3 separate regions of the Homo sapiens genome follow, and all the other regions are reported to be linked to region 2. The links are microRNA targets in miRTarBase. Many come from high-throughput screens and were not tested one by one. Region 2 holds a microRNA gene; each other region holds the end of a gene's coding sequence.

Region 1 (4,098 bases), not on the chromosome of region 2:
CTAAGCTGAATGCCCTTGGACACATGACTTAACATCTGATTAATTTCCTTCTGCCTCATAGGATCATTATATGAATGAAATACACTTTGCCAGGCACTGGATGATTAGTAGTCTCCACAAGCTGCTGCCATGGTATGGAGCTAGAATCAATCTGCCCTAAATGCTTCCTAAACTGGGCGAGACCACTGCAGTCACTTGCTGGTTCTAGCCATGAGTGTGAGTAGCTGAGCAGGCCTCTGCCAAGCTTATGACCAGGGCCTGTTGCTTTGCTCAGTTCTCTCCACTGTCCCAGAATTTTGGTACCTCCAGCTCTGTGTGGACTGTAAAGCAGCTTCCCTTGACTCTAGTGAGCACAGCCTCTGGCCACGATAAATCTGAAAGACTAGCTACACTGATTTCTGTGATCCCAAAATGTTGGGATCACAAGTGTAAGCCACTGTGCCAGGCCTCCACTGCCTCAGTTTCTGTTGTATGTCCTAATTATGTGACTAACTGCATCTACACAGGTGGTTCCAACAAGCATCAGGAAAAATGAACATTTATCACGCAACCCACAGGAAGCACAATGCACTAAACTTCCACATAACCACCCAGTAAATGAGAGGACTTCCTATTCCTAATCACAGCCTCATTTTCAACCATCATCCTCATTCTCAAGTATGAGGAAATGGAATTTCCTTGATCCAGACAGACTCCTAAGGCAAGATTTCTAGTTCCACCTGTTAATAACCAGATGTGTGGTGCTGGTTATGTCACTTCTCATCTCTAAGCCTGCAAAGTCGGGGGTAAGACTTGGTTCATCTCTAAAATAGGTCTTTAAATTCTAATGGATTTTATAAGGCACCCTTCAACTTCCAATTGAGCCTTCCAATCATTTATATTGCTGTGGCAGTGAGCTTAACCAGTGAACCTCTAAATAGGCCATACAGAATGGGCTCTCTTCCAGTTTGATACCAGCGATTTCTTCAACACAGGGAGAAAGTAGCAGAAAATTGGTATTAGTGGGATTTGTAATTATCAGGGCAGTTCCTATTGAAGGTTTTGTTACTGTGTCATGGCTGATTAGACCTGTCTACTCTGGTTTTTGGATAGTCCCCAAGGGCAACTGGGAGGCAAGGGCACAGAAGGGGTAGGAAACAAGAAAAAACATCAGTGCTTTGGACAGCAGAGCCCCTCAGGATAAGAATGAGCTTGATCATAGAAAGTAAGAGTTAAAGCCAGCATAGAATGCTTAAAGTTACATTTTACTTCGAGTAAGAGCAGATAATCTAGGATTCATCTGAAAACAGAAGAGCCTCAAGGTTTTCTGAAGTGGATTCCGTCATGGCTCCTCGTGGCTTCTTGGAATTAAAAAACATGGCCACTACCAAGGAAATGAGGAATAATTTTAAAGATGCTTACTTGGAGAAAGAAAGTATACATTGATCTAGAGTGACAGTTCTCCAGCTTAAAAAAAAAAAAAAGTGTTCCTTTTATGTTGACTCAAAATTTTATTTTTGAGACAGGGTCTCACTCCTGCACAGGCTGGAGTACAGTGGTACAAACATAGCTCACTACAGTCTTGACCTCCTGGGCTCAAGCTATCCTCCTGCCACAGCCTCCTGAATAGCTGGGACTACAGGTGCGCATCACCACACCTGGCTTGTTTTTAAATTTTTTGTAGAGACAAGGTTCTCACCATATTACCCAGGCTGGTCACAAATTCCTGGAATCATGCAATCCTCCTGCTTCAGCCTCCCAAAATGTTGGGATCACAAGTGTAAGCCACTGTGCCAGGCCTCAAAATACTAAAATAAATGACCAAAAAAAAAAAAAAAAAAACATCAGCTGGTTGCAGTGGCTCACACCTATAATCCGAGCACATTAGGAGGTAGAGGCGGGAGGATCGCTTGAGCCCAGGAGTTACAGACCAGCCTGAGCAACAAAGACCCCATCTCTACAATAAATACAAAAATTAGTGGGCTGGGCACGGTGGCTCATGCCTGTAATCCCAGCACTTTGGTAGGCCAGCAGGCAGACCACGAGGTCAGGAGTTTGAGACCAGCCTGGCCAGCATGGTGAAACCCCGTCTCTACTAAAAATACAAAAAAAAATTAGCCCGGCATGGTGGTGCACACCTGTATTCCCAGCTACTCGGGAGGCTGAGGCAGAAGAATCACTTGAACCCAGGAGGCGGAGGTTGCAGTGAGCCGAGATCATGCCACTGTACTCCAGTCTAGGTGACAGAGCGAGACTCCGTCTCAAAAAAAAAAAAAAAAAGCCAGGCATGGTGGTGTGTGCCTGTAGTCCCAGCTACTTGAGAGGCTGATGTGGGAGGATCACGTGAGCTAGGGAGGCAGAGGTTGCAGTGAGCCAAGATCATGCCACTGCACTGCAGCCTGGATGACAGACTGAGACACTGTCTCCAAAATTAAAAAAAAAAAAAAAGTTAGTTTAGAATATGCTTCTTCCAGTTTCACATGGCCCACTGGAAAAAAGCTAACAATTATCTGTAAGAGGAGTGAGACAAGATGCTGACTTTGGGGCAGAGTGAAGCAAATAAGCAGTCTTTTGCATGACGAGAGACTTGAAGATACAGAGGATGGCAGTGCATTTAGGGTTTAATTTAGGCTGCAGCTTGGGGAAGAAAATCAGTGGTCATCACTGCCTTTTGTCCACACTGTATCACTAAGCAAAGCTCCTGAGAACAAACTGCTGGGATAGTCATGACCCTCTCTTGGAGTGGATGAATTCTAGGGACAGGTGCCATAAGGAAAGGCTGCAACCCCCACAACAGAAAATACATATTTATTATAAAATAAAGTTAGTTTCATGAAGAGAGTAGAAAAATAACACTATGAGCTACTAAAAAAGTTGTGGAACTCAGTCTCCGAGGATTGGGGTGAGAGGCTTTCACATCACTCTGGAAACCCACCAACATGAGGCTCTCCGTGCTCATGTGGGACAGGTATAGCACAGCTCGTACAGGGAGCATGTGGCTCAGGTCCTGCTTGAAGCCCAAGGAGCCTAGATGGTCCACACGAGATGCTCTGGCCACGGTGATCAAGGAGGAGAACTTGAGGTCAGCAGGGGACTGGTTCTGAGAAGGGGCAGGATGGGAATAACCTTGCCCCTCCCTATACTGGAGTGTAGAAGAGTCTCTTGGGCTGATGGTCCTGGTTTAGAAGATGGTACCCACTGGCCTTATGCTGAGTTGCTTGCCCAAATGTCTGTGCTGAAGAAAAGCCACACAGCCTTTCTCAGGACAACTTGCCCCACCAATTCTCACTGGTGTGGCTAAAGTACCAGAAGCAATATGTGTGGTGTCAGCCTGATGGGCTGCTGGCTGAAATTCTGTACTTCAAATCCTGTCCATACGATGGCAGAAAGAAAGAAAATGTTAAAAGACCAGTGAATGAGAGCAGCTGGCCTCGACTGTTCTATATTCCAAGCCTCCTGGCCCCAAAGGATAGGGAGAGTATCTTCCCTGAGTGGGAAACGATCTACCTACCCTAAACAGGAAAGGCAATCCCATAGCCACCCCTTCCTCCCTCTAGAAAAAAGTCTTCTAGACCCCTTAGGCTTCAGAAGAATACTGAATCCCTCCCTGGGATGGGAACCCAACCCTCTAGTGATGAGAAATGGTCCCTCAGCAGCAGTACCTGGAGAAAGCAGCCAAGGTGAGCACCTCAAGTAAAAGCTCTGAGCCACAGAAGAAGAGCAAGATGCCATTCATGATGGCTTCCAGGCGGAGTACGTAGGTCTGCAGCAGCAGGTAATAGGAGGCCATCATGGCAGATGGGAAGGTCAAGGCCACGCTAATACTGAGCGGCATCTTTCGCTGGCAGAGGTTTCCCTTTGTACCTGTCAGACACAGCCCATGGAGTCATCTCCAAATGGTCTGCTTTTCCTGGCCCAGGGGAAAGGCGTGGGAGATGTGATGGAATGGCAAGGCACAAAAAATAATCCTGAGTGGGGGTGTGCAGATTTATAAATGGGGTCCCACTGTACTAAAAGTTTGAGGCTTAGGAGAGCTACAAGATTAAAGTCACTTAATCCAGAGGTCCTGCTTCCAGTCTGGTTCCCACTCAAGGGACAATGGGATCTTTATTTGGGAAA
Region 2 (4,098 bases):
TGTTTCGAGTCTGTTTCTGATGGTAAGTCACATTCAGGAGGGTCTTTTATTCCTGAAGCTAACTTTAAATTGGAGCCACGTGCCGGGCTCTTGCCTGTTGAGGAGTGACTTCTGGTCAACCCAATTAGCAGAGTGCATGGAGTGCTCTGGCCCCATTCACTCCTCAGGATCGGAAGCTCCGGGTCTTGTTGATACGTCCTGGAGTGGCTGGCAGATGTCATTTGGTCTCCCCAAATGGAGTCTTCTCTGCCCTCCCTTCCTGGTCTCTGGCTATGAAGAAGGGAAGTTATGTTTTAAAGAATCTAAAGCACAGTACAGTTCTCCTTTCCCCTAATTTCAGCCTCTGAAATATATCAGCCTCCAGCTGCTGCCCCAGGACACTTCTGGGCTCTTATTTAAGAGGACTCCTCCAGCCTGGAATGCAGGGCAGTACACATGTCCTTGTCTTTCTTCCTGCTGTGCTGGCCCTCAGGGTACCGTTCTGCCTGGATACAGAAGAAGAGGTTCTCCCTGGGACAGAGGCTAACAAGCCCTGTCCAGCGAAGGGGTGGCCTCCAGGTTTTCTGGTTGGTGCAGAGCTGGCAAGGGTGGAAATGGAGGGAGTGAGGCCCTTCCCATCTGGCTCCAGGGACTTGTGCTCCTCTGTTTGGGACAAAGACTTTACCTTGTCAATGCAGCTTTATCTAAACTGTAGTCTGTGGATGGCGGTATCCCCCTAGATTCCTACAACTGCTTGACCCTTTTTCTCTTGGTTTTTGAAGCTATGACAAGAGCCTGATTTCGTGTCCATCTCAGTGAACATTTTTGTAAATAGTGGAGAGAGGAAAATCGTGAAGTTCAGCCAATTGCACTTGAAACCGGAGGTGGCCTCCCCCTGCCTGGTGGGACTCCTCCACTCTCTTCACCTTTGCTGCACTCTGGGTGTCCGCCTCCAAATCAGTGTGCTTCAGAGTTCTCAGAAGACAATGGCACCTAGTGTCCTTCTTGTTTTTGTCACTAAGAATGGATTAATTTTATCTCATCTGAAACTGAAAATATTACGTTTGGCAGACATTCTCTGAAATCTAGAACAAAAGAAATGTGTTCATTATCATCTAAGGATACACTTTCCAATCAGTTCAACTTGGCAGGTTCACCAGGAAGCTGTGTTATTTAAACTCGGATGGTCTAGGAGAACTGTAGACTTCCGGGTGCTAGATGATTCCTGCTCTGGAAACTCACCGAGCCATTTCAGCTGCGCTCTAGAGGAGCAAACCTGGGGCGTTAGCTCAACTCTTGCCCCCCTGCTGAAGGAGACCAAAACAATGCTTGATCAGGAAACACCATCTGGCTTTGCCCCCAGGATTCTGTGACTGCCCTGGGGAGGGCGCAGTGACCTGCCAACCAAAATTGGTACAATTGTAAACAGCCACAGAAATGCTTAAATGCAATATCATTTCTATGAAATTAACGTGTTTCCATTCCATTCCAGCCACCAAAATTGCCCGTTTGAGCTCAGCCCTCAAAACAAAGATGCCTGTGTGGCTTTGCCCAACGTTGGGTCACTGTTTTCTGCATAGGAGACAGTTACTGTGTGTGTGTATGTGTCTGTGTCTGTGTGTGTGTGTATGTACGTGTACACACTTAAAGCCTGTTGCAAAAACAAGATGCCCAATATATTTCTTGTTTCTGATATTTTCCCAAGGGCGTTGAAGGGCAAGATTAAGAAGGAAAGCTCCAAGAGGGAGCTGCTTTCCGACACTGCCCATCTGAACGAGACCCACTGCGCCCGCTGCCTGCAGCCCTACCAGCTGCTTGTGAATAGCAAAAGGCAGTGCCTGGAATGTGGCCTCTTCACCTGCAAAAGCTGTGGCCGCGTCCACCCGGAGGAGCAGGGCTGGATCTGTGACCCCTGCCATCTGGCCAGGTGAGCCCAGGCCTTGAGGTAAAATGACCTTGATAGTTTCTGGATCTGGCGTGTCCCTTCCATGGGGCTAGCTGAAGAAGGGTGGACGCACACATGCACACACTCGTGTGTGTGTGTGTGTGTGTGTGTGAGATTTATGCAGGCCTGTGTACAGCACTCAGGCAGTGCCATGAGCCTGTGCTTGTCCCTGCAGAGTCGTGAAGATCGGCTCACTGGAGTGGTACTATGAGCATGTGAAAGCCCGCTTCAAGAGGTTCGGAAGTGCCAAGGTCATCCGGTCCCTCCACGGGCGGCTGCAGGGTGGAGGTAAGGAGTGGAGAGTAAGAACGGCTTTTTGTTCCCAGGCATTTTAGGAATATTAAAGCAGGTTCCTTTGGAGTGTGCATGTGTGTGTGTACGTGTGTGTGTGCATGTGTGTGTGCACATGTGTGTGCATGCACATGCCTCTCTGTGAATTCCTGCTTCTGGCTGCTTTTTTTTTTTTTTTTTAATTTTTGTAGAGACAGGCATCTCACCATGTTTCCCAGACTGGCCTCGAACTCCTGGGCTCAAGCAATCCACCCACCTCAGCCTCCCGAAGTGCTGGGGTTATAAGTGTGAGCCACTGTGCCCTGTGAAATTGGCTCCTTTTTATGTGAGGTGCAAACCTCTGCATCCCACTGGCCTGGTCTGAGCACCTCAGAAGTCCTGGGTGCTGCTGAAGTTGCCAATATTTGAAATTATATTGTTTTCAAATCTTCAAAGTAAGTTGAGAACTCAAAGCCAAGTTTCTGAAACCCAGCTGCTGATTGAATCACCAGGGTGCTTGTTAATACTACATGTTTTCCAAGCCCTTCTTCCCTGGGACATCTGGTTTGGGGCCTAGGCTCTCTCTTTTCAACAAACATTTCACATGAATCTGGTGATTATCAAGATTTAGAGAAATCTGTTGTAATTCAGTTGTTTTCATCTTTTGAATCCAAGTATTTATTTCATGATGAATTTGAAATCCAGGCAGTAGGCTTAAACTAAACAATGTGTTCGCCTGTAAGATCCCCCATAAGGCATTTGGAAGAGATCTTTTCAGGGAGAGGGTGGGAGGATGCCGGGGGGTCTTTTGCATTTGAGTTTGAAGGGAGCTAACCCATCAGTGTTTTTGAGAAAGCTCACCTTGTCCCTGTTACCTGGAGTCCAAGGCTTCTGCCACTAAGCCCGGCCAAGCATTCGGGTGGGACAGCCGCCACCAAGCCAGGTGTCTGGGGTCTCAGTGTCCTGGATGACTCCATCTGCAAGACCAAGGCGAGTTTCTCCAGGGCCACGAGGCAGCGCCTGGCTCCGGCAGCTGGGCACGTCCAGGGCAGAGGCTGTGCTTCTGGATTGGGGCGTCCTCACCATGCCCCAGCCCAGGCGTCTCCCCCAGGCCTTCCTTCTGGAGAGACACCTTATTCGTGCCTGTCTCTTAAAGCCTCAAGTTTGATTGAAGAAGCAGAAGTTGGCATAGACACCTTTGAGCATTCAAGCTCTCGCCGGGCCTGCTGCAGGCATTTCAAGGCATCTTAGCCCATCGTTTAATTTAGGACAGAGGCCACGGAGAGGCACCGCTGGAGCAGTACACCGCACACCACAGGGTGGCTGCACTTTTTGGGTGGTGGGGTGGGGATGGGGGCAGGTATGATCAATCATCCAAACCAGGGCATTTTTAAGAGTAAAAGGAGGCTCTACTGATAACATGCTGCAACAACAGATGTGACTAGGAACGGCCGGTGACATGGGGAGGGCCTATCACCCTATTCTTGGGGGCTGCTTCTTCACAGTGATCATGAAGCCTAGCAGCAAATCCCACCTCCCCACACGCACACGGCCAGCCTGGAGCCCACAGAAGGGTCCTCCTGCAGCCAGTGGAGCTTGGTCCAGCCTCCAGTCCACCCCTAACAGGCTTAAGGATAGAAACGACACATAACACCGGGAAAAGCCATGCTGTCAAGCATCTCAGAATCTCAACCCCAGAGGCAGTCTTTAGGGACTGGGGTGGGCTCAGGAAGCTGTATTATTTCAAAGGACGCAGTGTTTCCACAGCTCAGCCCAGAGCTGCTGGAGTTCACACGGCCCACCAGAACCTGCTGACTTCAAAATCATCACCACCAAGGGGCCAGGAGGTGGCGCTGTGGGGCAACAGAAAACAGAAAACAGCTGCTCCTTGAACTTGGATTCCC
Region 3 (4,095 bases), not on the chromosome of region 2:
ACAGACCAGTGGACGCTGATCTTCGGAGACCCAACCAAGTTTGGACTCGGGGTCTTCTCCATCGTCTTCGACGTCGTCTTCTTCATCCAGCACTTCTGTTTGTACAGAAAGAGACCGGGGTATGACCAGCTGAACTAGCACCCAGGGACCCAGTGTACCCAGCCTCTGGCCTCGTGCCCTGCTGGGGAAGGCCTCACCCAGCGAAGGCCGGAGAAGCGGTTGGGCCCTGGCACACAGGGCTGGCTCAGTGTGCGGACAGAGGAGACCACTCTGCTCCTGGGGCCAGAGGCCATTCAATAGCCTGCCTTCGTCCGGGCCCCTCCTGGGCCTCCCCGGCCAGGCACGTGGCACCGTCGCCTTGACACCGCCATCTCTTTTCTTTAAGGCTTCAGGCAGCGCGCACAGGCTCTGGCAGCCGTCTCAGGCAGGACTGGGCACCAAGCTTGCAGCCGAAGGCCTTGCCCCAAACTACCAGCGTTTCTGCAAGCAGCTTGAAGGGCTGACCTTGCAGCCGGGTGAGCCAAGGGCACTTTGCTGCCACCGCTGCATTCCCAGAGATCAAGCAGCCCGGTGCCGTGGCCAGTGAACTCAGAGGTGCTGGTGGACGGGCTAGGACTTTGGGGTTAGGCCATGGGGCTCTTTCTCTGAAGGCCACTTTCCTGACGTACTCTCTGTACATAACTCAGCGTCCGTGACTGCAGTAACAGCCAGCCCTACCCAGAGTATTTCTGAGCCATGAGGGGCCCACCAGATTGGTTCTGAATTGGATTCATGCCCAGCGCATTAGCATAGTAACTCCTTTCAGATTTTTTGGAGGGACGTTTGGAAGTGGCTTACTCTCTTCTGCCCTCTCTCCTACCTCCACCTTCTCAGATTAGCCCCATCTGAGCACATCCAGCTGCTCCTTACCCAGCATCTGGAGTACAGGACATAGCTCTCTCCTGCTACCAGTCTGTGCCTTAGAGGTCTGTTAGGCCTGCCAAACGGCGACCAGCTCCCCTGGAGCGAGGGCAGGCCCCTTCCCTCTCTTTCCCCAGACACCTACTTGAGACTCACCAATTTCTGGCCTGTTCAGGAGCCTCAGATAAGTATTTGTACTTGAGACCACCTCACACAATCTGTATGGGCCCAACCCTGATCTCAAACCTCCTTCCCTCTGCCCAAAGCTGTCCTTCCTATGGCAGGAGGGGTGGGGGTCCCAGGACGTGCCTCATACATGACTTGAGCTTGTCAGTCCACTGAGTTTCCTTCTACGAGATCAACGCGAGGGGCCTGTATCTTGAATTAAAACCTACTCGCTTCCTTTCTGCACTCTGTGTGCTCGATACAGAAGGCAGGTGTGCTGGCCTTCAGAGCCAGGTGCCCTGCTCCCCTCGTGTAAGGAAGCGCATAAGGTTGTGAAGGTCACTGACCCGAGAGCGCTGCGTGCTGACCCCACACTTCACTGGGGAGCCCTCTTGGGTAGCGCGAGACGCCTACCCGCCCAGGGCCAGGTCAGTCTCCCAGGCTCCGTGTCTTCACGGTTACCAGGGCACGCCACTCAATCTGGATGTGAGCCGGGGTGGATGAGGTTCTGAAGGGCACACCAGCACTGGGAGCGGGGGCAGTGGGGGTCTTATTCTCCAGACGCTTCCTCTATCTAGTTGTAACAAACGTCAAAGAATGTCAGGTCTTGTTTCTGCAGAGCAGACTTTGGCCTGACGGGGTCCACAGACCTGTTTCACTTGCAACACCCAGTAAATGTGTTACTGGGTGCCCTACTTTAAAAATCAGAGATTTCAAATGATTGACTTTTCCGGCTGAGTGCGGTGGCTCACGCCTGTAATCCCAGCACTTTGGGAGGCCAAGGCAGATGGATCACCTGACATCAGGAGTTCGAGACCAGCCTAGCCAACATTGCAAAACCCCATCTCTACTAAAGATACAAAAATTAGCTGGGCATGGTGGCGGGCACCTGTAATCCCAGCTACTTGGTTGGCTGAGGCAGGAGAATTACTTGAACCCAGGAGGCGGAGGTTGCAGTGAGCGAAGATCACGCCATTGCACTCCAGCCTGGGCAACAAGAACGAAACTCCATCTCAAAAAAAAAAAAAAATTATTGACTTTTCTTTAAAATCTGATTTGGCAGTGCTAGGTAGGTCCAGGAGTGCTAACACCTTCCCAGAGGTGGTACGCAGGTAGTCAGGTGCTCTCTGACTCACCCCCATCTGGCCAGATCACGGCCCCCAGCAACACGTGGGGTTGTGTCCCTCGCTGGGATACACGGAGTGCCCTTATAGGCAGGGAGTCTTATAGGCAGGGGTCTCTCCCAGGCACCTCTGGGTGTCCCTACGGCCCCTCCCAGGTGGGAGCTGAGGCTAGGTTGCAAAAAGGAGGTTGGGAGCAAGTAGGGGCTTCACAGTAACACCCAAGAAAGCACACGCACCCCAGGGTCCCACCCCAGTGCTCCCAGACACTCCCACAGATGTGGTTCTGGTCAGGCGCAGTGCAGCTGCTGCGGCTCCACCAGCCCCGGGCTTTCAGGCAGGTGGGCCTGGGAGTAGTTGAGCTTTGTCCCAGAACAGTGGGGGATGGGGCCATCATTAAAACCACAGCTCTGGCCCCAATATCCCACCGCCACCCCCACCCCGATATCCCAGCCCATGCCTCAGCAAAGCCCCCTGTGAATTCCAGCATTTTTATTGAGCGCACCACATCGGGGAGGGGCGGCAGTGGTTTCCACGGTAACCAAAGTAAGGCTTGTGCACTTGCTGAGCTTCCAGATGCGAATTAGTAAAAGCTAAATTCAAAAGTAGAATGGGCATCTCCAAAGAGTACGATAAAAACATTTTGTATCAAACTTGTGATTAAAAAAATACAAAAGTTAAACCCACAGGCAAAGAGGAAAATGACAATCCTGAGAGCTGCCCTGATAGGTGAGCCTCGAACCTCGTCTAAATCCGTAAGAAGGCAAACCCTGGGGAGGCCAGCACCCCTCGGGAGAGTGGGAGTGAACGCGGAGCCCACCTGGCTTCATCTGGGCAAAGCTTCGTAGCGCCTCTGGCAGGATGTGTGTCCAGTCCCCCGAGGGGCAGAGGCACTGCGGTGTGGACACACGAGGGCTGGGGGGCAGGGGCGGAGCCGAACCCTGCAGCCAGGCAAAAGCGGGAAAGGCCTGGTTCCTCCAGCATTTCCCAGCTTTTGGGGGCTCCCAAGAGATAGTGGTTCCCACTTGCCCAGCCACTGCTGTGGCCAAGCAGCAGGGTCGGACCTGAGCCTGTGGTCACAGCAGACTGGCTACTACTCAGCTCCAGGCCCTTATTTCCAATCCTCGGTGTCCAGGAGAGAAAGCCGGTCCCAGAGGCCCCAGGCCAGGGATGGGAGAAGGGAAGGAAGGCCAGGCCAGGCCTCTGGGACCAGCTATAGCCCTTCTGAGCTGGGGCCCAGCGGTCAGCAGAAGCCAGATGGGGACAGAGTGTGGAAGTGGCGTTACTGTACAGAGAGGCGGCAGGCAGGAGTCGCAGATGGTGGTGGCTGCTAGGACAGCATGGACTGCTGCACGGCCTTCTGCAGCGACTGCCGCGTCACCAGCAGACGCACCACCTCCTCCGAGCGCTTGGTGAGCCGCTTGCGGGCCTGGTCGTGTGTGACCATGGTCATGTCCCAGCCGTTCACCTGGCCCCAGGAGAGAACACAGGCTCACCTCAGCTCCCCGCCCTCTGGGATCTGGAAGCAGAGGGCTTTGGGGGCCCAGGTCATTCAAGTAGGCCCCCAGCCTAACATCCCAGGGCTGGGAGACACCAAGCACTGTGGCTGAGACACACAGGAGAGAAAGCCAGCGTCCTCTGGGGCAATGCCAGTATGGGTTCCCAATTGGCTGCAGTGAGTCTCTCCCAGCTGGGAGGCTGGGGCAGCTCCCCACCCCCAAGTGCTTCAGACCTGCTTGCCCAAACCTTGTTTCTCCTCCTTTGGGACACCTGTTACCTGCATGATCTTGTCTCCAATCTGCAGCCCAGCGATTTCAGCAGGGCCTCCTTCAGACACCCGTGTGACATAAATACCCTGGAAAGGGGCAGCCCAAGTCAAGCCCTGTGGTCACTGGACTGGCCCCTTATC

Evidence for each region. Region 2 holds the annotated microRNA hsa-miR-6811-3p (AGCCUGUGCUUGUCCCUGCAG, at 2,079-2,099, shown strand). A microRNA usually pairs through its seed, bases 2 to 8, with sites in the 3' UTR of a target mRNA and lowers its output. Matches are read on the target gene's strand: a 7mer-m8 pairs with bases 2 to 8, a 7mer-A1 pairs with bases 2 to 7 and ends in A, and an 8mer does both.
Region 1: miRTarBase lists TMEM216 as a target of hsa-miR-6811-3p. The part of its 3' UTR that is shown has no 7-base or 8-base seed match.
Region 3: the mRNA of TAX1BP3 is a reported target of hsa-miR-6811-3p. Seed matches in the 3' UTR shown: 7mer-m8 at 3,255-3,261.

Annotation. Positions count from the first base shown.
Region 1 is chr11:61,397,519-61,401,616 of GRCh38, reverse strand. It overlaps TMEM216 (transmembrane protein 216), which reads right to left. Exons shown (of 5, transcript NM_001173990.3): 4 at 3,642-3,843; 5 at 2,771-3,347. The coding sequence ends at 3,341. Among named protein-coding and RNA genes, the nearest start is that of TMEM216, 7.0 kb to the right of the region's middle.
Region 2 is chr2:237,508,890-237,512,987 of GRCh38, forward strand. It overlaps MIR6811 (microRNA 6811), which reads left to right and starts at 2,042; the gene lies at 2,042-2,099. It overlaps MLPH (melanophilin), which reads left to right. Exons shown (of 16, transcript NM_024101.7): 3 at 1,685-1,906; 4 at 2,100-2,212. RefSeq lists enhancers at 1,512-2,012, 2,013-2,513, 3,894-4,098.
Region 3 is chr17:3,660,232-3,664,326 of GRCh38, forward strand. It overlaps TAX1BP3 (Tax1 binding protein 3), which reads right to left. Exons shown (of 4, transcript NM_014604.4): 3 at 3,964-4,041; 4 at 2,664-3,654. The coding sequence ends at 3,517. CTNS (cystinosin, lysosomal cystine transporter) reads left to right here. Exons shown (of 12, transcript NM_004937.3): 12 at 5-2,872. The coding sequence ends at 138. P2RX5-TAX1BP3 (P2RX5-TAX1BP3 readthrough (NMD candidate)) reads right to left here. Exons shown (of 15, transcript NR_037928.1): 14 at 3,964-4,041; 15 at 2,662-3,654. Among named protein-coding and RNA genes, the nearest start is that of TAX1BP3, 6.3 kb to the right of the region's middle.